2 separate regions of the Homo sapiens genome follow, and region 1 is linked to region 2. Evidence: fine-mapped QTL for protein levels in blood plasma. Region 2 holds a variant in brackets. A gene starts in the other region. All regions are shown on their forward strands.

Region 1 (16,452 bases), not on the chromosome of region 2:
AGAGAATCCCAGGGAGGCCCAGGTGAGTCACATCCCGAAACCTCTGTGAAGGTGAGGAGAGCAAAAGCCCCCTTGGGAGGCTCTGGAGAGCAAGGAGGAAACTGCCACTAATGCTCTGGTGGGCACGCCCTGCCGCTCACCTCAGCAGCAAGTCGTGATTTTAAACTAATACTTATTACTCACCAAGTTCTAGGTTCAAATATATATATATTCACATATATATAATACTTATGTGATATTATGTGTGTATGTATATATTTACATATATATATTTATGTGATATTACATGCATATGTATAAGTCGTTGAGTGGACACTGTTATGGATAAAGGTAAAACAGGAGTCCAGGGGTGGGAGCTGCTGTTTTATACAGTGTGGGGCCAGGGAGGGTTTCTCTGATAAGACGACGTGTTAGCATAGACCTGAAGGGAATGAGCAAGACACACAGACATCTTGGGCCAGCGCGTTTTGGGCAGAGGGAACAAATGCGGCAGCCCTGAGCTTGAATCAGTGTGGCCAGAGTGGGGTCACGGTGTCACTGGTGGGGAGGTGGCCAACCTGGCACCATACTCCATGGGGGCTGGCAGAGCCTGCTGTGTCCCCACACCAACCCCCGTGTAGCTGCCCCTTAACTGCAGGGTCCTCATGGTGTTTTGAAACCTGGCCAAATTGATAGACTGCTCCAAGGAAAGACAGGGACCTCTGACGGACTAGACCGTGGGAATGACTGCCAGGCAGAGGTTGAGCTGACCCGTTAAACTCAGCCCGTGAGTGCATACAGAGCATGAGCAGGACTTCCAATGTGCTCACGGCCCGCTCTAAGCACTCTGCCTGCCTTGGCTCTCGGAAATCCACATAATATTCCCATGAGGCAAGTATGTGACCTTCCCTCGGGGAACTGAAGTGACAGAAGTTACCCAGCAATGATGATCTGACGTTCCACCACCAGCACGGGAAGGGGCTGGCTCTGGGCCTGTGTCCACCTGAGGCTGGGCTCCTCCCCACCCTGCCGCCAGCATTCTTTCCAGAGCCGCACCCGCCCCAGGTGGCTAGCCCATGCCAGTCCAACCCCACCAGGACCAGTCCACCCCAACTTCAGGGAAGAAGAAAGGCTCCTGAGGTTGAAGTTGTCTGGCGCGTCTTAGGTCTGGTATGACTGCTATTGTGAGAAGAATGGCTGGCCAGGTCTGCTCTTGGCCTTGGGGATACAAAGAGAAGCTTCCATTTTCCGCTCTAGCTCCCAGCATCCTGCAGCCCAAACAACACCTGTCCAGGATCCGGGGCTAGCCAGCAGGGCTGTCTGCTGAGGTGTCTCTGGGGAGTTCAGCCATGTTTAGCATTTCACACATCTGTCTATACCTAGACCTCTGCTCGATATATACTATCCCCACACCCGAGATAGTTATGATACAAGGTTAGACTTCAAGCTAATTTGAAACAGCCCACATCATCCCAGCTCTCATTTCTGAACGAGCCCATGGAAACGACAGCAAGGCGAAGTCCATGAACTTACCAGGAGGGAGGTCTCAGGCAAGCCACCTCACCTCTCCAAGCCTTACTCTGCACATGTGTGAAGCAGTGATGATTGTCTCTATTTCACAGGACTGCTGTGCAGATTAAGACGGAAACGCTAAGGAAGCAACAAATGCCCAATAAATGTGGGTTTCTTCAACATTTATTGAATACCTACTGTGTGCAGCCACTGTGCTAGGTGCCAGAGAATGAACAGACGGATGCTTCCCGTCCTCAAAGAGGGCACAGTCAGTGCAACGGCAGGGACAGATGTTTAACGGCTCAGTAACAGCACCATGCAATTTGGCTATCTCTCCTATTTCCTCCTTTCAATGCTTTAGGCCATGAGAATAGGGGCCAGGTCTTTTATTTCTATTAGATCTCCCAAAGCCTTGAGAAAGATCTAGAGCCCGTTGTCTTACAGCAAATGCAGTGGCCTCTCTAACAAAGAAATGTTCCAGGGTAAACAGGAAAGCAGCCACCTCAAACCCCATCCAGCCCACACTGGGAGAGCTGTTTACAGAGATGAACCCAGGGAGGTGGGTGGAAGCCTCAGACCCTCCCTGGTGGGAGGCTGTCCTGCCACCAAAGGCCTCCATCTCCAGAGGCTCCTGCTTTAACTGATGCCGTGGGAGGCATGCAGCCAGTCCTTTAAGAACTAGGGACATTGGCGTTTGCCAGTGTCTCAGTTCTGTTTATTCTGTAAACATAAGGAGGAGCTCAACATTCTGTTGTACTTCATTTTGCAATCTTCACAAAATAAATATTTGCCTTCAAAAGCAACAACTGTGATAATCATCAGGATAATATTCTCCAGCGCCATTTCCCTCGCACATGCCAGGCACAGAAGGCAAGTCAGAGTGCTGTGTGTGGTCTGTTTGGATAATAATTTTCATCTGGAAACCTCAATTTGGAAACCAACTGGCAGTAATTCTAGAGAAAGTTTGGTCTCCTGGTTTTTAGAATTGACTCAAAACCGAGTGTCCCGAGTCACCTAAGTCTCCTTGCTTTGGTTACGTCTGCCCGTAAAATGAGAAGCAAAATTGCTTAGTGAGTGCTGGCGGGAAACTAGGACATTGGCGGGGTTCACAGTGGCCACAGAACAAGGACTGGCCACCCAGACAGGCCAGGTGCCTGCTGCATGTGCAGGGATGGTCTCTCTCTCTCCAAATCTCTCTAAGAATGAGCTAAAATTCAAAAAGAGTTCTGCTGAATGTAAATGGTACTTATTGGAGATTTTATTGCCCATAAAGAAATCCATCAACAGAAAACCACACTCTGCAAATCTACCGATGCACAATTAGTTTGTGCTGCTTACAAATCCCACTCTAAACTCAGCTGTCAGTGCCCTCCCTTGGCCACGCTTCTTGGAGATACAGGCTTTCTGCAGAGGATGCCGCATGTCAACAAACACATCCCCAAAGTGTACACTCTGATTTATCTTCTTCATTATGGACAGGAGGCTTTAGGAACAGCCATTTTGAGTCTTTATTAAGGACTAAATCTTAAAGAAAATGAACCTTGAGACTCCTCTAAAGTACCTTTTAGGGATGCTCAGTGCATTTCCATATTTTTAAGGATTAGGATTTTTTGGGGCCAGAGGTAATGTTTATTACCCAAGGACACAGAGCCTCAATCCAAACAGTAAACCATAAAACCACATCTAACTGGGTAAATAAAATCAGCCAACTTAATAGACATCTGCATCCCACTGGAGCATTCCCCGTGGCCTTCCACTTTCCTGTATTCATCAGACCCCAACCAGACATCAAGTCAACAATCCCGCCCTTCCAGCTCCTCCCTCGTGATCCATCTGTCTGCCTTGACTGCCCTGGAGTTCCCAGAGACAGGTATCCTCCTCCAGACTGACTTCCCTCCTAATCGACCTGCATCTTCCAGATACGAGGAAGGAAATCAAACTTTCCAGGTGCTGGTGGCTCCGTGCGGGACGGGGCAGGGAAGCCACCTTCTCTCCAACTCCAAAGGCCATATGGAGTCAACAGGAACAGGTCTGGCATGCTGGCCAAGGGCATCAGTGATCTCTGAACCCGTTCTCCAACAATTTTGCCAACTGAGCCATCAGAGAGCCACTGCGTCCCCACTCCATCTCACACCCGATGCTGGAAGGTGTCCCTCTCTCCAAGTGAGGAGGAAGCGAGTGCAGCTGGCCAGTGGCTCTGCGACTGTGGGAGTGTCCCAGCAGGGCTGCAAGGGGGGCGACGGCGATGTCTGTTGCTAAGTGTTCTTTCTCTGCACAACTTATTGAGTCTTGATAATCTACTTTCAGATTTTTGGAAGTGTAATCATGTGTTTCAGGTTAGGGTCTTCATAATTTTTCTCAGAATGGATCCCTTTGGCATGTGTTAACGGCCAAGGGAGCAGGTGTTGGTGAAAATGGATCATTCCTCTCCTGCCACCCTTCCTGCTGCCTGCCCTTCCTGCCCTGCACCTCAGCCAAGCCAACTCTCCCAGGAAGAGGCTACTTGGAGACCCAGCTCCTTAGAAGCAAATTACAGCAACCGGCGTGGCATGGGATGGGGTGGTGTGGGCACTGACTGTCCCAGAACAACACAGGGCGTGAGCCACCATGGCTGAACTTCCGCCCTGACTTGACTTCTGTTTGCCTTTCCATCACCCTCAATGAGAGCCCAGCCCCCTTGCCACGGCCCGCTCAGGCTCCTGGTTCTCCTCTCCTCTCCTTCTGTTCAACCCTCCTTTCCCTCTGCTCCGGCAGCATGGCCTTCCTGCTGGTGCTGGGACATCTCCAGCTCACCCCACCCCAGGGCCTCCTTTCTTGCGGGTGTCCTGGTTCACTCCCTCACTTCATCCAGGTCTTTACTCAACTATTTCATTTCCCAAGAGGCCCCCACTACTACCCTGGGCACCTTCTTTCTACCTGCCCTGCTAGTTTGTTTGTTTTTTTTTCATGGCGCTGGATTTATGCATTATAGCTTCTCTCCCTGCAGCAGAATCTAAGCTCTGTGAGTGCAGGGATGTTCTCTCTCCTCACCCATGGGACCACTGTGTTACTCACTACATCCCAGCATGGTGCCTGGCATGTAGCAGATGCCCAGAAAACATTTGCTGAATGAATGAATGTGCACTAAAACCAACTTGAAATCCTGCCTGCTTCCTCCTGTGCATGCAGGATTCTGTGCAAACATGGGATTGGAAATATGGCAAATGGAAGTTTTAAGAGAAGAGATTTGGTAACCATCTGAGAGTCGTCAAAACAGTGCATGCCCTCTCATTTTTTGCTTGCAGTCTGGTTTTGCATGTCTTTCTTCTATCCTAAGAAAGTGCTTTCTCTCAGGATTAAGGTGTTGTTGGCAGAATCAACTCTTTTTTATTTTCAGGAGACTAATACTGTATCTTATTTCAGTATTTGGGCTCACCTTTTAGTTGCCTATATCTAGCTATTGAATGGTATCAGTTAACAACATCAGCCTTAAGCCCACCACTAAGCTTGGCTTCTGTGCTACACTGCGGGCCTCAGGGCTGTTACTAAGAGTAACGTGACTGTGGTTGTTATTGCCCTCATTGCTGATTTCGTCCGACTCACAAGTGAAGGCGCGCCTTCCTACTGTGTTTGGAGCAGTAGGTCTGATTGACCGTGAAGTGAGTTAAGCTGGCATGAGCTCGCAGGGTGGTGCAGGCAGGGCTACCGCCACAGGTGCATCTTCCTCTGTAGGGCTCCTTACGGCCCACCTGTTTTCCATAGTCCTCTGTTTTCTCGGAAATGGAAAACAAAGGCATCCTGGCTGGTTACATGTGTACGTAGGTGTATAAAATGATGGGCATTTCCAGAGTGTGTCTGGGCAAGAGGATCTGGGCAAGGAAGCAGGACCTCCAGCTTCACCCACATGTGTCTGCTCCTTCCTGGGGTCCAAACAGTGTGTTTGCCACCCTTGGGCATCCAGCATTTGAGAAATAACAGGTGTCTCTGCCCCCAGAGAGGGTAGCTTTGCTAACTAGGATTTGTTTGCTTATTGACTTAGGGGATGCTGATGTTTGAGCAGCCCCCTTGTCCCTAACTGTGTCATTGGAACAATTGGTGACCTTTCTCTGACAAGAAGGATGAAGGAGCCCATTCATTCATTCATTCATTGGACATATTTTCATGGAGTGCATGATGTCCTTGGGGTGTGCTATGACTGAAGACACTTCAGGTTGTAGGATCCCTTAATACATGACCTAATGAATGGCTGATCCCTGCCAAGACCCAGGGCAAAGCTTTTTTCATAGCTTTGACTGTACAGGGTCAGCTATCCTTGGGTAATGCTTTGTGACACTCTAAGGGCAATGATGAAAAATTAAATATGGTCAAGCTCATTTGTCTCAGGGGCCAGTGGGCTGTTGGGATGCCTGAGCCCCAAATGCCATTTTGAGTTTTTTTTTAGTTACTAGACTATCTTAGACTGAACCACCTACAATGGCCTATATTTGACAGTTTTTTTCACTATATAAAAACTACAAACACTCTAACTTTTATCAGGAGGGTTCACAAAGAACAAAACTGAGACTGTTTCCTCTTGATCCCTCGCCTCTGAGGACAGGAGATGAGTGTGTCTGGGGCTGACACGACCCTGGGAAACTAAGATACAGGAGGGGGAGTGTTTGCTTACTCCACTCTTATTTTTATAATCCCTGGTGGCTGTCATTGCACCATCTCCTTGTGGGGGCAAATGTGTCAGTGTTGGAGGCAGAGGACACAGGTTCTAGTCTCAGCCCCTCCAATTATGAGTGACAGGCTCCACACGAGGCCTGGGCATACTGAGTGCTAACCTAGACCAGTTCTTGGTGTTCCCATAATCATTATGAGCTGTGGGACTTCGGGCAAGACAGTGAACCTCTCTGAGCCTCAATTTCCTTATTGGGAAAATAGAGAAGACATTCATGACAACGCTTTGTAAAGTGCCATAGAAATGTACAGCAGAGGTTAAATGATTAGACATCAGCTTATGTTTCCTTGCTTTATTTTTTAGGAAAATAGTAATCTTTGGGACTTAAAAAAAATTCCTTCCTGCAATATACGAATTCAGTAAGGACAGAATCGTAGGCATTGAGATGGAGGCGGCATACTCACAGGAAAGGCTGGCTGGGGCTTTTGTCCCCTAATTGATCTAATGTGCTAAGTGGGCTTAATGTAAGTTAATTAATGATACTATTGGTGGGTGGAATACCTAGGCAGAGCCTCAAACAGCATCAAAGGAACGAGCAGGCAGGTGTCATCCAGGATAATTGAGGCATGCAGGCAGTCACTAGGCAGGCTAGGAGGAGGGTGAGGGGAAACTGAGCCCAGCTGAGGGGCTGAGCCACTTAAGCAGCAAGGCTGTCTGCCAAACACCATCCTGTTTACAGCTCCTGTATTTGAATTTCAGATTTGCTTGAGTCTTTGAAGCTGGGTTCCTGGGCATTTCCTTGAGAATAAATTCTATTCTTTGGAAACCACAAAACGCACTCACTTGGACCCAGAAAGGAGCGTCAGGTAACCCAGCTTCCATCTGTGGGCCTATGAGACCTGAGGAACTTTGACTAGAAGAGGCTCCCCATTTAACAGAGGCAAGTAGGTTTTGCGCTCCGTGAGATGGGGTAAGACCAGGTCTGTCTGCACTCCGGAGCAATGTTGGGCTGCCGCCCAATGGCAGGCACTGGGCTAGGCAAGAGGGTACCATGATGCCTGAGAAACAAAGATGAGCCCCTGACATGTCTGTGCTTCACAAATGTGTATGCCCAACAAAATGAAAGTCCAGCTCACAAAAGCAAGAAACCAGGTAGTGGCCAGGGAGTGAAAATCAAGCATTTCAGGGAAAGTGTATTTACTTTTTCCTCCCAAAGACTGGTCCTTCCAAGATTATCCTCCAACTGTGCTGTCACAAATTAATCCTCCCACAGCACAGCCTGGCCCACTTAGGGATGGGGAGGGGTACAGTGGAGACCCCCGGCCAATCGCCACCAGGATCGCCAAACTTTCCCAGCCGTGAAGGGTACACGTGGACTGTCATCGGAACGAACGCTTATTTCCAAGCCTTGACCAGAGTCACTCTCTTTTTGGTGGCCTCTGTCAAAATGTATCTTTAAAGGTTTTAAGTGGCTATGACTTACAAATCTCAGAGTATTAAGCCAGGCAAGAAACATTCTCTATTTTAGATGCCTGGATCCCTTTTTTCCTTCAGTCTATTATGGCTCTTCACTTCTTTGTTACACTTTCACTCTTGCTTAGAAAGTGTCTCAAAAATGCCACTTGAGAGCCACAGAGCAGTGGCCTGGGGACTGGGGAAGAGGACGGTGGTGCTCCTGTCTCTCCGTACGTCTCCTCACATGCGTGTACCCCTGGCTGTGTGGGATTGCCCACTGACCGGCATCTGCCCTGCTTGTTGATTTTAACTGTCCCTCTTGTTGCTGACCCAGCACAACATGGGCAGGGAAACCCAGTGGGAACCTCGCCTGCTGACCTCCCTGCCCAGCCACCCGCTTCTCCCTGAGCTGACATCTCAAAGCTTGGCTGCTGCAGGAGGCTGGGAATCAGAGCCGACTGAATCAGAGCCGACTCCTGTCTAGGAGCCCAACCCACCCCACGGTCTGTCAGAGTGTTGAGAGGAACCTCTTGGCTGGAAATGAAAACCTCAATCATCACAAATAGGTACCCACTCCCCTCCTTCTCTCCCTCTCCCCGCTCCCCCGCCACCAACACAGAGGCCAGGATATGGGGGGTCTCAGACACGACTGGAAACCCCACTTGGAAGGTCTCTTAGGTCACAGCGGGTACGCAGAGTTGGAGGCAGGTACAGAGCCCAGCTAGAGTCCCTGCCGCGCCTGCCTTCCCCAGTGAGCCGGGCACAGGGGCAAACCTGAGAAACATACTTTTCACGCTCCCTGGAGGAACCCGTTGCTTCAGTAGCCCAAATCTTAAAGCCTGTGAAGCACACACAGAATTTGTCTCCCTAACCAAATGTGCAACCAACAGCAAAACAGGGTTTCTGATGTTTTTCTAAAACAAAGGAACAATCTCAGGTCTTAGAACTGGTAGCGCAGACATACTGCAATCGGTAAAGCTTGTTCAAACGCAACCCAAAAATGACATGCATTTCAAAAATGCACCCAGCCTCTCTCCCAGCCCATGACACCTCCGTCTCGGCCACAGCTGAAGAGTTTAGAAAACCAGAGGAAAGGACCAGGGCTTACCTGGCTTCTGTTGGAGGTCAGCTTCAGTCCCAGCAGAAGATGGGTCTATGAAGAAAGTCAGGTACCATCCAGTTCTGGGTGACAGGCTTCACAGGTGGCCACCGTGGCAGCCCTCTCAGAAGCAGGTACTCTATGTCCTTAGGGGCCAGCAGGGCTGCCTGGGACCTGGCACACCTCTCTGACACTAGCCCCGCTTCCTTTCCGTTTAAAGGGCTTCCCGGGAACTCTTCCTTGACCGCTCCCTGCCCTGTCTGCAAGTTTGGAAACTCAGTCCTTGCCGAGGGGCTTTCCCTCATTGCAAACTCACCTGCACCATCTAGAGGTCTCTCCCAGCACTGGAGAGGCTGGAGCGGGCACGTTCAGCCCTGCTGCCATAGGTCCCTGGCACACCTGGCTCTCCGGCCGTCTGCCCCTTAAGAGATCTGTTGGAATGCGTAAAAATCATGGATTTTTTTTTTTGCAGGGGTGGGGGCCTTGCTTCTATCAGAGCCTTTAGGCGTGGGAGTGCTAAAAAGCTAAACTAGCATTAAAATATCATTAATCAAAGCTTGTTCGTAGAAGGACCCCCCACTGAGATGGCTACAGGCATGGGTGCCACTGCACGGATTCAGCTTCCAACATGTCTGTTCACATTCTCACCCATCCCCCGCACATCCCTCAGGGTTTGAGCCACCAGGACTGCTCTTCCTTTCCTCTCTCTGGACACCTCACACCACCAGTGTATACCCATGTAACTTCAGATAACCATACACACCCCCCGTATAACTAGGTAATTAGGAAGCCATTTGAAACATCAACATTTTGAAAGGACATACCTTTCAGTATTGGGCAATTATTTCTCAAAAAGTAAATGATTGGGGGGGGGAAAACAGCCTTAAAATAATGTCATTCTCTTGTCATTTTCTCCCTCATTCACACCTACACAGATAAATACAGGAACAGAGCAGCTCCTCCAGGCTAGATTTCTGTGTTCTCCTTTTCCATCTTGTCCCCTCTGCCTTGGAAACCTACAAGGTAACTCACACATGAGAAAGTAAGAGCTTAAGAAAGAAACAGTCTGGGCTCCGTGGCTCACACCTGTAACCCCAGCACTTTGGAGGCTGAGGCGGGCAGATCACTTGAGGTCAGGAGTTTGGGATCAGCCTGGCCAACATGGTGAAACTCCGTCCCTACTAAAAATACAAAAATTAGGCCGGGCGCGGTGGCTCACGCCTGTAATCCCAGCACTTTGGGAGGCCGAGGCGGGTGGATCATGAGGTCAGGAGATCGAGACCATCCTGGCTAACAAGGTGAAACCCCGTCTCTACTAAAAATACAAAAAATTAGCCGGGCGTGGTGGCGGGCGCCTGTAGTCCCAGCTACTCGGGAGGCTGAGGCAGGAGAATGGCGTGAACCCGGGAAGCGGAGCTTGCAGTGAGCCGAGATTGCGCCACTGCAGTCCGCAGTCCGGCCTGGGTGACAGAGCGAGACTCCGTCTCAAAAAAAAAAAAAAAAAAAAATATACAAAAATTAGCCGGTGGTGGCATGTGTGGAGGCTAAAGCAGGAGAATTGTTCGAACCCAGGAGATGGAAGTTGCAGTGAGCCGAGATTGTGCCACTGCACTCCAGCCTGGGCAACAGAGCGAGAATCTGTCTCAAAACAGAAAAGAAAAGAAAAGAAAAAAGCAGACAGAAATGTATGGGGCTGGGGCAAGGACCTAGACTGTAAAGGACTAATTCTGCCTCCACAGAGATTAAGCTGAACCAGAGTTACTTAGCTGACTTGATCCTTGTGGATGATTAATCTAGATAATATAAGCTCCCAAACAAGAATTTTAACTTGAATTTTCAGGTTTGGTTGTCTACCCTGCTCATGCCGAGTTCAGACTGAGGGTCTGTGATAAATTAAAGTCACTGAAATTATTAAATTAGGAACCTGGGAAAATGAATGGGAGGTATTCTGGGCTAATCTGTTCTACTCCATATAATTTTTACTTTCTGGTGTGCTCACAGTGTGTTTGAGGTTTGGGATTATTTTAGGTGTAACTAAAACATTTTTTCTATTGGAAATTAAGTGGTGATTTAAAATTTACCAAAAGGAATGATACTGATATTTCCCAAAGAGAGAGAAAAAAGACACAAGAAAAAATTAAAATGGCACAAAATATGGATGCTGTAATAGAAGCCAAGGGAGTTTTTTCCTCTCTTTGAAAAAAATCCAAACATCATGGCATTAAGCAAGGTTATGGATGGTTATACTTGAAGTCTGCCTAGTCATCATATCCAAATGAAAATGAGTATATAATTAATTCAGTTGATTAAGAGAAAGAATGAAATGAGAAATCATTGCTTATCTTCATCATGTAAAGCTCCAGAGCTTTGAAGATATGTGATTTTCTGTTTTATACATTTCCTAAGAGACTGAGGCAGAAATAGCAACAGGTTATCAATAGCATTTTTTAAGTAAGAAAATGAATCAAGACTGCAGAACATGGTTGGGTGAAGGGGGTCTCCTGGGGCTGTGTTCTAAATTTAGAACAAATTTAGAAATGATGAATGTAATTTAGAACAAATGAATTGTAATTTAGAACACATGCTTGCTACACATAACAGCCCGGCCAGCCACCTGCCCCCTTCATGAGGTGTGCTCAAATGCATGGCCAGGAGTCTTATGGAGGGGCACAACAGGCAGGCTGGCCCCAGCTCTCAGCTCCGCAGCAACAAAACTTCGCAAGTGATTTTAGAGAGTCAATGGACTCCCATCCCTGTAAAAAACACTCAGGGGTTGGTAAGAATTATCTTGCAGATCAGATAATTTCCAGTGAGTGAAACAGAGCCATATTCTGGTCATCGTGATTTTAAATTTGTGTCTTTTATTTTTTTGGTGAGACAGAGTCTTGCTCTCTCGCCCAGACTGGAGTGCAGTAGCGTGATCTTGGCCCACTGGAACCTCTGCCTCCCAGGTTTAAGCGATTCTCAGCCTCCCGAGGAGCTGGGATTACAGACATGTGCCACTGCTCCCATCTAATTTTTGTATTTTTAGTAGAGACAGAGTTTCACCATGTTGGCCAGGCTGGTCTCGAACTCCTGACTTCAAGTGATCCTCCTGCCTCAGCCTCCCAAAGTGCTGGGACTACAGGTGTGAGCCACCGGACTCACCTTAAATCTGTGTCTTAATTACAAATCTCATGTTGTGTGAGCAGAAAGAAAATCCTTGATACCCATGTACCCCATCAAAGTAGCATTCTCCTATGCCATCATGTTCATGTGTTTATTCATGCAGCAAATGCACGTCACGTCTTCTACGTGCCGGTACTGTTCCAGTTGCTGGGTAGATCACAATGAGAACAACAGTCAAAATCGCTGGCCTCAAGAAGCTTATGCTCTGTTTGGGGAGGCATAGAGTAATCAAGTTATGAAATGGAGATGAAAAGTACTTCTTGGCCGTGATAAGCAAGGGTGCACAGGATGCCTGGATTATTTGTGTTTGTATGTGAGGGGATTATCAGTTGGCTGGTGACAGTTTCCTGCTACTAATTACTGTCTCAAAAAGTGGCAGGGGAATCAAACACTCCAAAAGCAAGATGCTCCTGTCTGGCAGCTGGGCCCTGACATATAATTGGTTTCACCTAACAACTCACCACAGCAAGTAAACTTCTGGTTACCTGCAGGTGAAGTCTATCTCAGAAAACCTTCCAGGAAATGACATTGCTCAAATCCTAACACAGTGTGTGTATATTTGATGAAATGTTTTTATGCTCATGGTGACACCCACTAAGTTATTCAGAATAAAATGATCACAGTTCTGTCTATAGTGTAGAGTTTGCAGCTTCAAATTTGTCCCACAACTGGGACTGTTTTCTGGAAGAACGTTGCCCCTGCCTCGTGGCACAGTGGCTCCCAGGACTGACCTGGCCTGGCTTCTTTGCTTTCCTAAAATGCGTTTGTCCCCAGCTCTGTCAGTGGTAACCTCACAGGGCTCTGCCCTCCTCAGCACTGGCCAGCTAGTTTTTAAAGTATCATCTCAGAGCACCCGCTACTCATGTGGTCACAGTTCCATAGGCAGAAAAAACAGGAATATAAATATTTGTGATTTAAAGTCTCTCTTAGGAACCACACCTTCCTAGGCTTGCAAATGTGCCTAAAATATGAGAATGGAATTGGGTGATACGGCGGACACCAGCAAGCTGATGTGGGGGTAAGGGGGTGTGAGGGGCGGTGCTTTGGTTGTTGAGAAGGAAAGTTGACCAAGACTTGCGAAGGAAGAAGGCAGTCCTGCAGAGTTGGGCAGAAGGTGTTTCAGATGGACCAAAGGTCTTGTACAAAGGTCCTGTGGGGCCCAGAGCCAGGTGTGCTGAGGAAACTGACAGGAAACTGTGGCCACAAAGCAGGGAGCTGGCCTGGGAGGCAGCTGAGCCCAGCCCAGGAAGGGTGGTAGAGACCACATTCCACGTGGGGGCTGGACAAAAGGGTATGGATTCTATTCCAAGTATATCATGATTTGAAAATGATGGAAACTTGTTTTAGAAGTAAAATGGGCCACTATCCTTAGCAAAATGAGGAAAGGGAGAGACTAAGTCTGGGGGAGTATTTGCACAGAGGGAGGGCCTTTAGGGTGTCACCTAGATACCGGGAGATGAAATGCTATGTGAACCATTGTCAAGCTTGGGTGATCTGTCCTCCCCCAGCATAAATTCAGATGGGACAGCTCCAGGTCAAAGGCAGAGGAAAGAGCTGGGCTTTGCGTTGATTGTACCCTATTGGAGAATGAGATTCTGCATTTAGTTATTTAACTAAACTTTGAACACTGACCCCCTGCTACTGATTAAACAAAAGCCTGGCTTTCCTTTGGCTACCTGCCTTAGCTTGGGCTGCTATAACAAAAATATTGTAGGCTGGGAGGCCTCAACAACAGACATTTGTTTCTCCCAGTTCTGGAGGCTGGGAAGTCCGAGATCAAGGTGCCCAGCAGACCCAGTGTCTGGTCATCTCCCATGGCAGATGGGGTGAGGCCGCTGTCTGGGGTGTCATTTACAAGGGCACTAATCCCATTCATGAGGCTCCATCTCTAGCCTCCATGACCTAATCACCTCCCAAAGACCCCACCTCCAAATACCATCACCTAGGAGCTTAGGATTTCAATATATGAATTTCAGGGGAGACACAGACACCCAGACCACAGCACTTCCCATTTGCCCAGGATTCCCCCCATGGACACCTTATTAAAAATGCAAGCTGGATTTGGAACACAGCTGTCAATAATGACTCTGGTCACATAAAGGAAGGACCATAATGAACCACCTCCATGGATGAAGGAAAGCTTCAGGCCAGGAGCTTCGTGCAGGGCAAAGGCATGCCCTCTCCCGTGGCCTAAGCTCTCTCTGCTCCCCAGCCAGGGTTTGAGACGGCCCCCACCACCTCCATTATGTAAGCAGTGAAAACATAATTGAAATTGATCCTCGCTGAGAATGGCTTTACGAGCTTGAATAGTGCAAAGGTTCAAATACTAAATCTTTTTTACGATCTGTAATATTGTCATTTAGCTCAACAGTACACATCACTATGTTTTTCTAATAAAGGAAACCACAAGAGTATTATAAAACCTATTTGCACTATACCAGAAAAATTAAGAGGGGAGAAAACTGAGTTTAGAAATATGAAATATTGATATCTTCATTTGAAAATCAACAAATTCATCCTTCCAATAGGCAAGTACATATTTCTATCATAAATCATGGCTCCGGGGAAAGGGGATTATGGGGTCATGGGATTATCATGCTATTAACCAGTGGATATCTAAAAGCAGGGAAGTATGGGTCCATAGTATAAACATAAAAAATTATCTGTGCATTGGGTTATATATATATATATATATATATATATATATATATCTTTTTTTTTTTTTTTTTGAGACAGAGTCTCGCTCTGTCGCCCAGGCCGGAGTGCAGTGGTGCAATCTCGGCTCACTGCAAGCTCCACCTCCCGGGTTCACGCCATTCTCCTGCCTCAGCCTCCCGAGTAGCAGGGACTACAGGCGCCCGCCACCACGCCTGGCTAATTTTTTTGTATTTTTAGTAGAGATGAGGTTTCACCATGTTAGCCAGGATGGTCTCGATCTCCTGACCTCGTGATCCACCCGCCTCGGTCTCCCAAAGTGCTGGGATTACAGGCATGAGCCACCGTGCCCGGCCGCATTGGGTTTTATTTATTAGTATTTATTAATCAATGGATTTTTTTCTAGAGACAGGGTCTTGCTCCATCACCTGTGCTGGAGTGAAGTAGTGAGACTGCGGCTCACTGCAGCCTCAAACTCCTATGCTCAAGTGATCCTCCCACCTTGGCTTCCCAAGTTGCTGGGAATACAGGTGTGCCTGGCCAAATTAATGAAATTAAAAATCACACCTATTACAACATTTTGCAGGTAATCTGTAAGGCAGAGGAACGATTGATTTACAAGGGCTAATGTGTTCTTGCAGGGGGCATGTTAGTTCTCCCTTACTCTTCACCTGCTATGGATATGAACCCATTGTCCAAAGATCCCCAAAGCTGTGGTCAGCAAAAGAAAGCCAAAATGGGAATAAACAGGCATTTTAACAGGAATTCACCCTGGCTGGCAGAGCTGCTGCCTGCCACCTCTTCCCAGCCTCCCTTCTCCAGCAGGAATCTCCCAGCTCTGCTCAGAGCAATATGCCTGGCTAAATGGTTGCATTTCTTAGCTTCCCTTGCAGTTAGATGTTGCCGCGTGCTTCAGAACTGTCCAATGAGCCACAGCAGGTGTCAGAGACTTCCAAAAAGGCTGCCAACTCATCTGGGAGGAAGCTGTTCTGCCCCTTTCCATGCGTCCCCTTTGCTGCCACCTGGAGTGTGAACATGACAGCTGGGTAGACATCAGAGTAGGACGGAAGGAGCTCCAACCCCTTGTGCAGCTGCCCCACCAGGCCCAAATTACCTGCCTCATTCATGGGAAAGAATAAACCCTCATGTCTTTCAGCCACTGTAGCCAGGCCTTATTAATAAAGACTAATTAATTTGCAGTTTCTCATTATGAAAAATTGGGATATGCAATTTATTCTTTTCTAGATAAGCAAGGTTTAAGAAAGTCTGCTTTATGGCAATTTTAGCTTTCATATCAGTTCTGCTGGGGTATCATTCATAGTATAAAATGATTCCCCAAGGAAATGAAGTGTTGACTAACTGGAAAGATTCTGATTTGGGAAGAGGGAGTGAAGAGTGAGAGTTCCCTGCTGCCTAACAGTGGGGATAGGTGCCAGGCTTCTGGTGTTGACCAGGTTTGAACCCCAGGAAGGTCTGAGTCTGGGTCTTGGTTCCACCCTAAGCCACACAGTTTAGGGATCTTTACACCCCAGGTGCAGGGATGTACGTTTAAGTCCAGCACAGTTTCTCACAATCCCAAACTGGGCTGGACACTAGAGAGCTCTCCTCTACTCATGCCTTCAAGGTGGCTGGTAATGTCCAACCACACTCCTTGGGAGCAGCTCAAAGTAAATAAGAAAGGCTCCAGATAGGTGAGTGGCCACCAGGACACTGGCCTCATTAAGCAGGCCCATTAACGGTATGCGCCATGGACTTCAACAATGAAATACATACCCCAGACGGGATCTAGGGGATTCACTGACTGGGAGAGAGTATGTGGAAACTTCTACTTCCATTCCCCCCTGCCCATGAGCATGGAGCCCAAGCCTGCTGTGCTGTTGTCCTGTGCCTTTGAATCAGTGATCTTACCAGCAACATCCATCTGCACAGGCCAACAGTGTGG
Region 2 (15,788 bases):
TTTGAAAATATTTCATTGAAATGTATATTCCTTCTTTGGATCCTTAAAAAAAGTCAGATCACAAGCACATTAATAGAGGGGAAATGAGAAGTTACCTTGAAAATGACAACATACTGCTTTTTTAAAAAGGAATAAAGCACTTGCAATTTGTTACAAAAACTGATTAATTGGTTTCAAAAATGCTTATTTTCATATGCATAAATTAGTGCTAATTTTATCCAATGTGATTTTTGCAAAAAATAATATTGAACAGCGTATATTAACATAATATTTCTAAACATTACAGTCAATATTTCATATTCGTATAGTCTCATGTAAGCATATATTTTCACATTTTTGCACTTTAATTTAAAAACTTCCATCTAAATTTTTTTTTCATGGTTAGCATCTCATTACCATGAAACAATTAAATCACACTCTTAATTGAAGGAGATAATAAGATTTGTCTTATAGGTGCTTCCAAACAAACTAAAGAAAAACAAATTAAAATAATGAATTCGGAAACACTCATGCAAAGTATGGCAAACTCAGGTTTTAGTTAACACATGTCAACGCATGTTTCAATATTTTGTCTAGTAAGCAAAATAAAGCTGGCTCCTTGTGAACAAATAAAAAATATATTAAAATACTGTAATGAACTGCCATCATTAGGTATACTTGTATCTTGTTATTTTTCATGAAATTTTACATTTGGCCCATCTAAATGTTAATCATTAGTTAGGACACACTAAACAAAAATTGAAGAGGGAAACTTCCATTTTTAAGATCATGTGTACTTAAACCAAGCTATTCTGATTCACTAACAGCAATAATGTCTTAAACATCAATATTAAAAGCTGTAGAGTTGTTGACCTGATGGTGAATAACTACAAAGGATGGTAATGTTATGTCAATCAGTTAATACAAACGAGGAAGTTTCCTATCAAAGACTAAGCAATATACCTAGAACAAAAATTATTGAATTAAATAACTCCTACAGATCTCTGCTGTATGCATAACCACATAAAAGTTAAAATTAAACTCTTGAGTACTGAGACCAAAAGCAATTTTGCATAGAATTCAGGCAATCACCCAATTGCAGATTCAAGTCATTAACTCACCATATACTTCAAGAAAAACCCAGTGCTCCAAGGGCTTTAGTCAAGAAGCCCTATGAATAAGCCTTTGGCCATGAGGAAATTGAAGGGCAATAAGTCGTCCCAAAATTTAAAAAAGAAAAATCGAACATAAGATAGGGATATTATTAAACACACACACACACACACACACACACACACACACACACACACACACAGAGAGAAATCAAACTCTTCTTTTTCAAGGATGCCTCTTCACACTAACAACGACAGAAGTGTACACTTAAACATCCTTTCTATTAAGAGGACAAATTCTAAAAATTTGTTATCAATAAAATTACAAACTTTAAGATGTTTCTTCAACTCTCAGTGCTGAGTAACTCAAATGGCAACTTGAGATTTCCCCCCATCCCAGATGTTGAGAAGGTACATAAATAATAGCAATGCACATTTTTAAATAGTAAAAAGTTGGAGTTTGTTGCTGGGTTTTGTTGGTTTGTTCAGTCTGTTTGGTTTCTGGTTGATCTTTTGTTGTTTGTTTCCTTGACTGGCAAAAAAAAGAAAAAAAAGAAAAAAAGAAAAAGAAAAGGCAGTTCTCCTGACACACCAAAGAAATATTTAATAAAGGACATAGAATAAAGCCAGTGAAATGCAATACTAATTCCATTTCATATTTGCAGAGAGACGTGGAAAACTTGTTAATTTCAAAGTCAAGAAGCATCCATCCCCTTAGCTTTCAAGCATACCCTTTCACAGGGGCAGGGAGTTAAGTATTACATACACTGCACATAAAAATTGTAGGTGTAATTTTATTCCGTGTTAACATTATTAGCATTGCCACTGTCAACAGCAAAATTAATTTTTAAAAAGGTTCATTTCCAAAGAATGTCTTTTTACTAATCTGTTATACGATTATTCAAAGATTTCACCATCATATTAACATTCTTCCTCTCAATATTCTTGCCCCAAGACAAAAGCTTAGCTTTCTCCAGAAACGTTTGCCCCCTGGGTGAATTATTCACTTTTGATTTGCTAGCAGAACTGCATTTGTCTCCCAAATGTCTTAATCGTGTCGGAAATCTCGAATAAAATAAAGTAACGACACATCTTCAGTCATTTCATATAACACACTCCTGTGTTTTTAAAAGCTGTCAACCTCCAAAGATAGCTTAAAAAAAAACCGTTTAGGTAGACTTTAGAGAAAGGCCCTTTCAAAAAACCAACAGCAAAAGGAAAAAAAAAAAAATCCCCACAATCTAGCCAAAGGGTCCGAATGTGACTTTCTCGCGAAGCAGCACACGATGTTGGACAGCAAAGCTGTTACTTGGCAAGGTGGAACTCGGCCGAGAGCGGCTCCAAAGTCGCGTGGCCAGTGCCAGGAATTCAGATTTTGGCAACCGCACCTTGTGCGTCCCCGAAACCGACGGACAGAGACACACGGAGGGAGGGGAAGGAGGAGAAGAGCGCAAGGAAAAGAGGCCGACAAGCCGGCAGAGAAACCCACCGAAGGCCGGACGACCCACCCCGGAGACGTGTCCAGACCGCACCGTTTCGCAGGAGGAACAAGGAAATCGCCCGGCTTAGCAACGTAGATAAGCAGCAGGGCTCCGCGAGACTGCGGGCGAGGAGGAAAGAAGGCTGGGGGCGGGGGGCGCCCGTAGAAACGGTGCCCCGGCAGGAAACTGTCCGAAGTGACAAACTTTCACATCGCCCAGACTTTTTTTCCTTTTAAAGTGAGGAGTTCTCTTACCTTTAGATTTCTATGGCCTCAACTCAGCAATAATAGGCA[T/A]TCACAGAAGAATCAAAATAAACAAAATAAAATAATCAGCAGCCCCCAACGCTCCTGCACGAAAATCCTTTCAAACGATCCCGAGCAACATTTAGAGATGTTTAAAAATAATAATAATAATTTTTTAAAAGCCTCGCGTCTCGATTTCCAAATGGGTCTCTGACAACTTTGTCCGTCTCTAGGATCTGCTCTCCAGGACCACGCGTTTCGGATTTATTGTCCGCCAACAGTGTATTTTTAATACAAGAAATGAAGTCTTCTTTCGTCTGGGTGACCCGGGTTTGGTGTGTTTTGGCTTTTTCCCCCTTCCTAAATGAGCTCGGAGCTATTCCTTCTGGTTCACATCACCTCCCTCTTTTCTCACTTTCTCTTGCTCTTATCAGCCCGATGTGTAATGAAAGTTATCTGAAACCCACTAAAACTTCTACTTCTCCTTCCCAGTTCCAATGGGGGAAAACAAGCAGGAGGAGGAGAGTTTGAAAAGGTGGGGGGCCTGGGGAGGCGAGGGGAGCTCTATCCCCCTTTCAGATCCTCCGCAGCGCCTTCGCGGGTCCTGGACCCTCACGGGATCGTCCCCTTTCGCAACTCCAAGCTCAGCCGCCGGGTTTCTATTTCATGAACTGTCTCTTTAAAGAGGATCTGCTCGGCCATCCAGAAAGAACCCGGGGCGAGGGAGAAAGGGAGCTATCTCCCGCCGCCCAGAGTGATCTGATCGGAAGCCAGACGGGCTCCTCTTTTAAATTTTTAAAGTGACAGCAGCCTCCTCTGGCGGGAGAGGTCACAAAAAGGTCGCCAAGACCCAAGTCCTATAGGGACAGACTGATTATGGATGCACCATCCCCCTTAAACATGTAGATTTCTCCGGGTAAACAACCAATGGGGAGATCTCGCCAGGCAGGATTTCTTTCCCCAGGGAAATAGCCTCCGTTTCGATGTCTTGAAAGCACAAGTGTGGTGTGTGTGTGTGTGTGTGCGCGCGAGTGTGTGTGTGCATGTGTGTGTGTGAGAGAGAGAGAGATGGGGGATGGGAGGGATGGGGAAGGGTAGAGAAGTGCTTTCAGGGGTGTGAGGGTGTGTGCACCGAGGCAGGAGGGGGCGGGGGTAGGGGGGAGAGGTAGTGCTGGAGTGGGGAGGATAAAGCTTAGGGTATAGGGACGCTAGTTCAGACTAAATATAAATAGTTTAGAAATTCTCAGAAAACAGCAACCTCAAGAGTGAAAAGTTGACATGTACATTTCCAGTTTTCTGCTAAGCATTAAAAAAAATTTTTTTAATTGAAACTCATACTCTAATTTATTCCCTTCATTCTTGTAGCTAGGTCAGAGGAAGGGCGTGCAAAATTTTCAAACCATATTTTTCTTTAAAGATATTTTAAAATCTGAAAAATTATTGGCATATAACCCGCCCAAACAGCATATTATGGGTTTAGAGAGATTGATGACTGTCTGGTGAGTCTTTGCCATTTTCTTTGATACATTAATTAAAACACCTTGAACGCCAAAACGTGCAATAAGCAATTTGACGACTCAGATTATTTTTGAACGTTTAACATCATAAATGCTGCTTTTAGTAATCGGTACTATCCTATGTTTAATAACTTTCTAATATACCTTGGGTACATTTAAACCAATACATTGTAGAAAAGACATTGGAAGAAAGAATACAGGGGATACATAGCAAAACAAAAGGGTCTACAGATTTATTCATGGCCAACTTTGTAAGATTTAGTAAATCCCACTGGCTAAATGGAAGTAAACGCGTTTTTATCACAAAACTCCATTCATAAAAACAAATGGACAAAATCCAACTCCCCAGCTCAACAATGGAAAGTTAAGCAAAGTAAGCGAGTCTAGGGACACTTGCGGGGGAGAGGTGGGGCAAGAGGGGCTGGAAAGTGTGCTGACGGTTAAACTTTAGCTGCAAACGGGATAACACAAGTGCCACCCACTTTTTGTTTTCTCCAAGTGCAAATAAACGTGTAAATCCAGTAGAACTATATTTTCCCAAAATATTGATTTAAAAACAAAAATAGTAGCAAAAGGGAGGGATTGGGGGAGAGAAAATGACAAGAGGTGGTGACTAATTTGTTTCGGTGGCCTGTTATCTGTGACATTGAACTGTTATTTCAGATAATGGCCATTGTTTGAGAGAAAATCGCACAGCAGTGGTAGGTAGGACAGGAAAAATCCTTTGTAAATAACCTAAAACCCGGTCAGATATTCCCGTAGAGTTGGGCGCTTGAGAACCTTTAAGAGCTCCTGGTTCGTGGCCATTGATTTCCTGCCCTCCCTCAACTTGCCCATTGTCGGAGCTTTCTTTTTTTTTTTTTTTTTTTTAATTTAGCCATAAATTGGACCGGCTCGAGCTATGAGCTGTTCTATTTTCTTCCTGTCAGGATGAGGGATTTGTTTTATGATGCATTGTGTATTAAATACAAGTAATCTGGGGAACCGATTGCTTCAGACAGTGCGGCCTGATCAGGGGGTCTGGGAGCTCAGCGCCCCAACCCTGCGGCCCCCACCTCCTTGCCCTTTACAAAACTGCTTTCAAAACGAGGAAACGTCGGTAGGAAAACAAAAGGTCGTCTGGAATCATTGGCAGGTCCTGGCTAAATTAGGATTTCGTGGAAAGGGCCTCCGAGTTTTTTCCCCTATATTGGCTTCGGGTGGGGGGAGGCGGAGCGACTTTCAAGGTCTGGATACTTGCAGGTACGGCAGGACGCCGGTAGATGGCATTGCGCTCCGAAATAAAGCGCAGCGCCGGCGGCTCCAGCCACCCAGGTGAACCCGCCTCTGCCCGCCAGGCGCCGGCAACACAGCTCTGCCTTCCGCCTCGCCCGCCGTTCCGCGTCCTTCCGAGCTACGAGAGGAAGGCACACTGCAGTCCAGGCATGTAGACATCAGCCTGAGAGAAGGCTATTCCTACGTCTGAGCTTCTCTTCCCCAAATACAACCAAGAGTGAACGCTTACCCTCCGAGACCTTGGAAGATGTACCTAGAAGAATGGAGAATTCATTGCATCATCATTATTATTATATTAATATCATCATTATCGTCATCATCAGTCTTGTTCTCCACTGAATAAATTGTGAAAAAGACTAAAGGAAATCATCAGAAGGACCTGGGCAAAGGAAGCTAACAAAACACTAAATCTTAATCTCTCTTTCTCTCTCTCTGTGTGTGTGTGTGTGTGTGTGTGTGTGTGTGTGTGTGTGTGTCTGTCTGTCTGTCTGTCTGTCTGTCTCTCCCTCCCCTCTCCCCCACCCCATCCCACTCCCTTTCTCCTTTAGGTATATAACAATAACTTCATGTAAAGGCAGAGTCATCTCACTTTTTCTTCACACAACTTAAAGTTTAAAGATAGGGTTCTGAAATCCCACAGTAGTTAGACTGGCCTTGTTTCTCATGAAAGGGTCTTCTTGCTATTTAAATAAGAATTATTTAGAAGACCTGATCCATCTTCCCCAATAAGTGAATGAAACAGGAAAGAAGGTTAGAGGAAAAGGATTTTGCAAGGGGCTTGCTTCTTCCCCTGTTAGCTTGCTTTCCATCAGAAGGTTTCTAAAACAATAAATAAATACAAGGAGCCAAATACCATCACCAATTCCCTTTATTCCTTGGGATTTCTGGTGAAATCTGTTTACAGTAGTTCCCAGTTACAAATTAATCTGCAAAAGCCGCTGTCTGCTCAGCAGTAATCAGTAACATGCGTGTTCTGCAGTGTTTAGCACTGCCCTTGAAATGGGCTATTAAAAATAATGGTTTTACTGTAATCTCAAACCAGCTTTAATTTGCAAACATGTATCAGGACAGATGATCTAAATATTAAGGGGATGGAGTAGGAGAACAAACTAAAACAAATGTATAGCTTCGGGGAAAGAAAAAAATGGAATGATTCATCAGTGATGTTTAAAAAGAGAACCAGATTTTAAAAACATTTTTCCAGAAGGAATGATTATTTTTTCTTTCTTGATCTGTTAATTGTTGTTTACCAGGAAAAGGGCATTGGAAAAATATGAGGGTTGAGTGTGGGCTGATAGATTTTCTAGGAGTTGTAAAGATCCCCCTTTGGCTGATGGCAGGGCTGGGGTGGGAGAGGTTAATGTGTTTTCTTCCTGGTTTGAAAAGGGCATAAACCCTCCTCAGGCCCCTTCCTTCCTTCCCCAGCTGTGTGGATTGCAGAATCTTTAAAAAGCCCAAAGATTTCCAATAAGGCCACTGGCTCTGCCTTCATTGTGTAACTGTTTATTTAAAATAAGTCAATATATTAGTTAAAGCAGTAAGAAGTTAGTGCTCCAGTATTCAAGTGATTCCCACAAGACTGTAAACTGATGCCTCTTTTAAGCCTTAAACTTCATGGTCGTCCCAGAAGTAAAAGTTCTGCTAATGGAGACCCTATGGGCATGGTACATTCCAGCACATCATTAAAGGAAAGAAAAGCAGTCCAGCCAAAGCCAGATGAAATGACTGCACTGTCCACTTTTAATAGGCTTCCTGTGGACAAACAGCACTGTAACACTCTGCAGAGGACAATATTTAAAAACAAGACAACTTGCTGGCAGTTTTCAATACCGTAAAGTTAATAAAGTATGTTCCCATTCACCCTGACATTATGTTTTTAGTTTATAGAGGAAGGCACTTTATAACCTCAGTCTAAATTCCCTTAATTCTGCAGCTTTGGGTTTCTTGAGGTGGCTAAATATACACTAAACTCCAAGCCTAACATCTTTGTTTTAACTCTATTTTTTTGTAGCTTTTCAAGAACGTACATGTGCATTTTTACATTTCTCAAGTGGAGTTTTATTCATGGAGATTCTGTTAAATCCTGTTTCATACAGTTCATGTCAAGAAGCATGAAATAATCTGAGAAATTGACATTTGGCTGAACAATAAGTGCCTGCTAATTAAATTAGCTTCGTGTATAGATATTGATGTGTGTTTAAAAAGAAAATCAATGCTTCCTTTTCCATGTCAGAATAGGATTTTGTAAAATCTTACCTAACCTAACTGACACAAAGATAAGAAATAATGTAAGTATGTCTTTTAGGACTCAAGAGACTTCCCACTGATTCATATATAAATATTTCTCCCAATTTGTCTTTCTCCTACTCCTCTAAATTCTCTACCACCCACAATTTCTTTTCCCAAATCTTTTTATTTAATAGAGTAAACTTTGTAATGAAGCATGACCTTTAGGCAAGATAAACTAGATCAGAAAGCCATGAAATCTAAGGTGATATTCTGTTTAATTTTAATAATTTCTGTTTTTTAATTTAATAAGTATTTTGCAAGCTTTGTTCTCTAAGCATGAATGTGAATTCTGTGATGCTTTGATCAGACAGATCCAGTGAAACAGTCCAGCACAATACAAATTTACCAACAAAAATGCTGTGACTGTCCGTAGCCCCACACACATATCACAACTGCACTGAAGAGAGATTACTGGTGACTCTTGGTGGACTCTGCCTTTTTTTATTTTTTTTAAATTATTATTTTTTTTATCTATTGGGGTGTGCTGTTAGAAAAGAGGAAATTAAAGATAAAACAAATTTAAATAAAAAATTTCCCTTGGTCTGGAAATGGGCCCGACTGAAAGCATGTTAATCTCCACCTCAGTAATTTGGTTCTCCAGGAGAAGACAGAAGCCCTGCTGCTGTGCCCTGCACTTCATAAATCACATCTTTATGTGGACAAGGTCAGGGCACCTAACAGCTCAGACATGGGCCTTTGCAGTGGCTCGAGGATTCAGGCATGTTTACTCTCCTATTCGGCTCTCCGAGGAGTAGTCCAGCACGCTTCTAATTACTTTTGATTATTTTCATTTGCTGGGGTCAGTCTGGCTTGCCAGGACTGCTGGAGGGTTGATTTCCTACAAATCTTGATGTCTTTGTAGGACGGCACTGTGTGCGTTCAGAATTAGCACCCCGTTATTGTCCCTACAGCATGGGATCCTTCATAAATAGACATGGTGATAACAAAAGTTTCCCCAGTGAACCATTACCTACTTCCTTTCTTATTAATTAACTATACAAGCATAATCACCTAGCTGATCTTTCTCCAAAATGCCAAAGATTTTAACAGTTTAATATTTTATAGTATATTTGGCCAGAATGAGAGCAGATTTCTTTTTTGCTTCTATTTTAAAATATATTTAGTAACAACTAGCAGCTCTTTGGAAACTAAGATGAAGTACTTTGCTGAAACAACCGCTCTGGTGAATAAATTATTATACTCAAAGTTTTATTTTTTAAACTCCAGTTAAGGTTGCCATATTTAAAATATTTTTTGCTGGACTATTTTGATGTGTTTCAGTCCTAAGCTATGATGCTGAGTGGTTAATGCACAGCAACAAATTTATACCAAGTTTAAATGAAAATATTATGATAAAATAAAAATGTTAATAAAATACTGTAAAACTTTGGTAGCAAAATAGAGACAATAGAGAAATATTTCCCAAAAGTAGGGATGTTTAACTCTTTGATGTGTATTTATTACAAGATATATTCAAGAAATAAATGATGAAAAAATAAATACAAAAACTGAGACAGTCACAAAAAATGCATAACATATCAATCTGGTTGTTCAGACAACTGGTTGTTTTATATCACTAGGAAAAATTTACTATTATCTTTTTATTTTATAAAAGATAACTTTGCTTACGATTATCATTAGTCTCAAAAGGTGAAATCCCTCATTCTTTTTAACTTCGGACTAAATTAGTGAGGTAGTAAGTGCTTTTGGAAAAAACCTCAACTCTATAAGGAATTCATTTTTCATTATTTTATTAATTTTAATTAATTCAATCTTTCAATATAGTATTTAGCACATTATGCAATAACTCCAGGATCAGATTCTTCCCTCGAGCTTTAGATACACCATCTAAGAGTGCTTTTAGACTCATAATCTTGTGGGGAAAGTTTGTTGGAAGCTTGATTTTCCTCCTCTCTCCACGCCTAGCTGTGTACCTTTGGGTAAGTCACTTAACCTTTGAGTTGGTTTCCATGACAGTTTCATAATATCAGACTATTACGAGTGTTGGGAAAATAAATTGGGTAACGTGAGTGTGAACTGCCCTGAGTTCATGGGAACAGGTCAAAATACTATAAGTTTCACAGTATTTGTGTTTGTGTAACGGGTTACAGTAAACTTACATACATGCACAATGAGGAAGATAGTCTGGCCTATACTTTGGGGAACAGCAAAGTGTAAGTAGTTTTGTTTCCTCTTTCTTCCATTCCAGTGTCAGTTGCCCTAATCCTTACCCTGACCTTGGAAGGGAAGAATTTTAAGAAAAGTGTTTTTTTTCTCTCAAGCTGTGCTACCCATGAAGATGTCCGTCTCTGTCTGGCTTGCAGCTGAGTTTGTTCTGTTCTACCCACTGTGTTCTCTGCCAGTCAGTAAGAGAGAGTATTCTGCAGCAAAGGTGGAATACCATTGAGTTCCAGAGCCCTAAAAACGAGGGTAGGAACACACACACACACATCTTGGACTAGTTTTAGGTCAATATTTGTTACCAAGGCCAGGAAATTTATTCTCTACAATGTCTCCTGGTAGACAGACTTTAAGTACCAAGAGGGCAGGAATTGGGTCTATCTTTTTTGCCCCTGTTGCCCAGAGTCTACCATAATGCATGACATCAAGTATTTAGTAGATGTTTGTTGAAAAAAAAATGGATCAGGTCCTTCCTTGACTTCCATTCTCACCTAGTTTGAATGCCTAATTTGGATGCCTGTTACCTCTAGTCTGAATTATTGCAATGATCTCCTGCCAGATCCTCTGACCACCATTCACTCTCCCACCAGTTTAAAGTCCTTGATGTTAATCCTCTCAACCATCTGCTGTTACTTATTCCCTTGCTCACAGTTTTTCAGTGAGTTCCGATTGCCTAACAATTCAGTATAAATTCATTCCATTTTTTTTGAGAATTCAATGAGGCAATGTAGGTAAATCACTTAGAATCATGAAGAGGATATAGGATATAGTCAATAGAAAATAGCTATTATTATTGGTATTGCTATTATAATTTTAATTGCTATCATTATTATTGCTCAGCCTATAATTTATTTTGCCTTGGTTATCATAGATAAAATCTTATCTATACTTCTAAACCAACCATTTTTTATGTCTGCTGATTTTTACCACCCAGGCTTGACCTTTCCATCCTTCAACCCAAATTATCTGTGCTTCTCTCCTGGTTTATAGCCAGTTCTTCCTTACTTACAGGTGTGTCTTTAATGCTCTTGTCCTCCTAAGGACCATTGTAAGATTTTTAAGGACGGAATCAAGTTTTGTTCCTACTGATATCTTCAATAACAGCTTTCCATCATAAACTAAACTGTCTTTGAGACTTTTTGTAAGAATAAATTAATTATGGCTAAATGTATGGGGAATTACTTTATTTACATCCAAGCAAAGTTGGTTACTTAACACTATTCCCCCTTAGGAATCAGTTGATGCAGTGATGATTCTTTTTCAGGGATTTAGAAAGGAATTCCTACCACTGCTGCCTCTCCAGATAGCACAATATTGCCATACTTGCCTTACCCCATGTTTCCATTTCTTTACCATCTCTCTCCTTTCTCTGGGCACAAATCCTGGACAGTATCTTGGACTCCTCTCCTTCCCTTGTCCCCAATAAATAGTCATTGGTTCAGTTGGTCTGTTAAACTGTTTCTACAGGGTGCTCATTTTCCCACTGGCACTGGTCTAGTGAAGGCTATTGTCCTTTTAGGCCTGAGTTTTTGTGGCATTTTTACACCAAACATTAGTCTTCCTAAAATAACAAAGTTATAACAATGCTTTGCTTTACCTAAAAACAAAAGGTAAAGAGCAAAAAACAGAAGAAAAACCGCACTAACAAAAACTCCAATGGATCCCAATTTGCTAGAAAATAAAGCCCCTAATCCAAAATGCAATCTCCTCTTTTACAATTTGATGTCAAATTTATCGTCTTTCTAGGCCCATTTCCTGCTTGTTTCCTCTACACAAATCTTTAGCACTGGTTAACAACTGGAAATATGAATAGAAGCTCTTGGCCCTTCAACTGTGCTGAGGTAGGTCCTTCACTTCTCTTACCTCTGACACTGACAGCGTTCAGGAGATGAAACAATAGATCAAGTAGGCAAAGTGATAGTTCCATTCATCAAGCTCCTGCAAAGCCTTCCAGGCCCTCTTTCTTGAAATTTTTACAGTATGTAATATTAAAAGCATTCACTAATTAGTCATTATTCTTAAAATAGTTTGGGATATTTCTGTGATCAGCCAATCTACCTGTATACTGTTTGATGGCAGGAAACATCCTTCACACCAGCATTTTCTAATTGGTTATTAGAAAAGTTATTATCAGATATTCCCTGGAAATTGGCTCTGAGGTCAACTCAGAGAGCTAACTTCACCCAATGGATAAAGATAGCTCCCTCTTGGAGCTTCACAATGAGCACCAATGTGCTAAATACACTTAAGTCTAAAACTCTAAAAGTCTAGGAAATCCTTTAGTAAAGAGACCTATTTGGCTTATTCGACCAGGCATCATCGTAGGTAATTAAACTTATGTGAAAGCCTCTCTCCTCTTCCACTGGAACACCTAAGGAAAACAATTTTGTAAATAAAGTTTTATATTACTTTGTTTCAGAAAAGCATAAATATTCCCCATACATATATTTTTCTATCAACTGACTGTTCTCAACTCTTGATAAAAAAAAGTCCCCACAAAACAGTCATAAATAAATAAAGACAAAATGAAGCTTCCACATTTTATTCAAATTGAAAGCATTTGGAAAGTCTATAAAGATCACAAAGAAAGTAGGTTATCAGTAAACTCTAGCCAATCGATCCTTTGCCTGTAAACTATTACAATTGTATTTGAGTACACGGCCTGAGAACCTTCCAAAGGAATATATACAATCTCATTTCAAGATCAACCCACTTCTTCCTATCCTCCTCCATTAAAAGTCCTTCCAAAGCAGAGATTTTTACCATGGGCATATTCACATGCAATGTTTTATATTATTTAGACTTTTCTTAATAAGATTTGGCATTATCTAGATATGCATTTCCCTAGGAGAAAGAAAAGCAGCAGTGCAATCTCCATCTAAGGATGCCTGAATTAAACCTTTAAGAATTCACCTTTTTTCCAGTTTTTGATATTAGATTCATGTGTTATGCCTGCCCATGACTGTCTAACCACGAAACTAACTGGACATTAAATCAGATGGCATACAAAATTACAGGAATTTGATCTTTAGATAAACCACAAACCTTGATGAACTAATGTTGTTCCAGATGAATTAACTCATCCTGAGAAACAGAACATTTCATAGGAGCGACCACACAGTCTTCTCTGCAAAGAACACTAATGGCTGTGATTAATTTGTGTTCTATTGAACGTGCTTGCTTCTATTGAAAGTACACCTAAAAAGGTGTATACTAAAGGAAGGAAGAAGGCTTAGTCAGGCAATTCTGGCCTCAGAATAATTGCCCCACCCCAAATCTCTGATGGTGGATGCTGCATATTACTTATACTTGGTTATGATGTCTGTTACAGCGTTAAGAAACAATGAATGTGTTAAGTCATTATCAATGATTTCATGAAACATTTATCCTTTCTCTACATTGGAAATCCTAAAATTTCATTTCACTATTTCAATGACTGTAGCCAAACACTTAAAAAATAAAGTAACAACACTACAGAGCCAGAAAAGTATGTTTAGTTTATAATCCATTTAGTGAGTGTCACATCTTATGATACATATCAAATGGTAAAATGTCAAAATATTCCAATAGCAATTAAAGTACCAATACAATCTCTATATCATTGTGAAAATATGGACATTGATTTCAACTGTAGCTTTGAAAATATCTTTCTGTAAATGTTGTTGAGTAAATTCTTCAACTTCAAATAAAATCTTAATATAGCCTGTCTATAGAATCCAGAATTAAGTACTGGTCAACTTCCAAGAAGCAGATTCTCAAAGGTATTTGTGTTTTCTATGTAGTTCTTGGCTGGAAAACAAATCCAAGTTTGCTAACACAGTGCCCTACAACTAGAAGGGGGGGATGCCAGAAGGGACATGAATGGAAATACTTAAAGAGGAAAGAAAAATATGCACCCTGATTCACACATAATTTCTCTCCACATATAATCTGGACTGCCAATTTATAAATAAACCATAGAGCTGGATCATGATGTGGAGAACATTGAAATGATGAGCCTAGGAAGGTGATTGAAATGACTACAGGTTTAACATTTTAAACTCATACTTTTGTCTAATATTACATTGTGCCTTATACAATTTTATATTCCTCCACCCCACATCCATTCTACAAGAGCTGGCGAGGTTCAAAATTTCTCAAAAAAAGTGTTGATTAATTAAATTTAAATGACTCACTAAGTGTTTTAGCTACGTAACTTTTAAAAAATGTGGTGGTGGTTGTCGTCCCTGGAGAAATTACCATAAAACTGTTTATCATTGTCCGTATATAATCTCCTTGGTAATCAGTGTTGGAAGATTTCAAGAAGGTCATTATAAAAGTCTTCATAAAATATATTTTGCTGAATTTTAATCTTGGAAAACACAGTGAAGTCACAACATATACACGTTCAAGACTTACAACTATTACAAACAGAGGGAAACGGAAGGCAGGGAGTATGGATGAGAGAGAAAGAGGGAGGGAGAATGAATGAGCCTTTACCCAGGAAAGAGCATGAGACGGAAACACGAATCATCTGTTTCCTCAAAAGGAATCAGTGTTCAAATGCCTTTTGTACTATGAGTATCGTGTTCCATCAAGTGTGACTCTCGGGTTTAAAGATGTGTATTTTTCACACCATGCATCCTCTGAATGCAAATATACCACTTCCTCTGGTGCTCGGCCGAAGCCACGGTGGTCCATTCCAACACTGGATGGTTCAAGAGCAGAGCTGAGCAGAGGAAAAATTTGATTATACTTGATTTTCAATTACCTGCTCACTGTAGAACCTAAGCTCTCAGTAAGATGTAAATTCACTGAATTTGGTTTCATTTATGAAAAATATTCCATTGCAATGACAAGATAAGTAATTGAGACAGTGTGTTTTTATGCGTAGTGGGGTGCAGACCAGCACTTCTCTAATTATTCTCGCCCCCAAAATTTTTTGTGTGTGGTCCAGGTGATAACCGAGGTTCATGGCTCTCATAATTCAACTCTCGAATCACCCGTACCTAGGAAGAAGTGCCAGTCATCTGTTTTCACAAACTTCCTGTCTCCCATGGCCTTTCACAGGGAAGGTGATGGGCTGAACATGGTAAACTGCCATAATGAGGTAGGAAGTTTTCTTCCTAGGGCCCAGTAAACTACAAGCTTCCTCTCAGCAAAAAGGAAAACACTTGGCCTCATGAGCAATCAGTTTCATCCACAGTTTCCTGCTAGACCATAGCCTTCTGATGTTACACCCTTGAGGGAGTCTGCTTCTAGTTATGTAATAGTGAGAAAGTTGCTTCAACTTCTTCAGCCTCTCTTTTAGTATCTCTAAAATTGCAGGCCAGGCATGTTCATGCCTGTAATCATTCCAGGACTCTGGGACGCCAAGGTGGGCAGATCACGAGGTCAGGAGTTTGAGACGAGCCTGACCAACATAGTGAAACCCTGTCTCTACTAAAAATACAAAAAATTAGCTGGGCATGGTGGTGGGCACCTGTAATCCCAGCTGCTTGGGAGGCTGAGGCAGGAGAATTGCTTGAACCCGGGAGGCAGAAGTTGCGGCGAGCCAAGATCACGCCACTGCATCCAGCCCGGGCAACAGTGCGAGATTCCGTCTCAAAAAAATAAATAAATAAAATTGCAATAATGGGACTTCTAAGAAGTTATTAGGGTTAAACAATTGAGGTGAAGTATATAAAGCACTTAGTGTAATATCTGGTAAATAGAGACTCATAAAGAAGTACA

Direction of the effects. Positions count from the first base shown, and alleles are read on the strand shown. Strength reflects both the effect of a copy and how common the allele is.
With allele A in place of T in region 2, the plasma level of the protein whose gene starts at base 8,957 in region 1 is lower (weak association).

Evidence for each region. PIP is the chance, under the fine-mapping model, that this variant and not a neighbour inherited with it causes the effect. Protein levels are from antibody-based Olink assays in UK Biobank. Linkage for the fine-mapping came from a reference panel and not from the study's own genotypes, which makes the PIPs less certain.
Region 1: it holds the start of EDAR, and the variant in region 2 is fine-mapped to the plasma level of the EDAR protein (UK Biobank, PIP 0.98).

The regions. Positions count from the first base shown.
Region 1 is chr2:108,980,264-108,996,715 of GRCh38, forward strand. EDAR (ectodysplasin A receptor) reads right to left here and starts at 8,957. Exons shown (of 12, transcript NM_022336.4): 1 at 8,697-8,957. It also overlaps a transcript of RANBP2 not described here. RefSeq lists an enhancer at 7,430-7,931.
Region 2 is chr3:169,143,897-169,159,684 of GRCh38, forward strand. The region is part of intron 2 of MECOM (MDS1 and EVI1 complex locus); the gene reads right to left. Among named protein-coding and RNA genes, the nearest start is that of LINC01997, 150 kb to the left of the region's middle. RefSeq lists a silencer at 5,543-5,602. The variant T/A (reference allele first, on the strand shown) is at 2,866.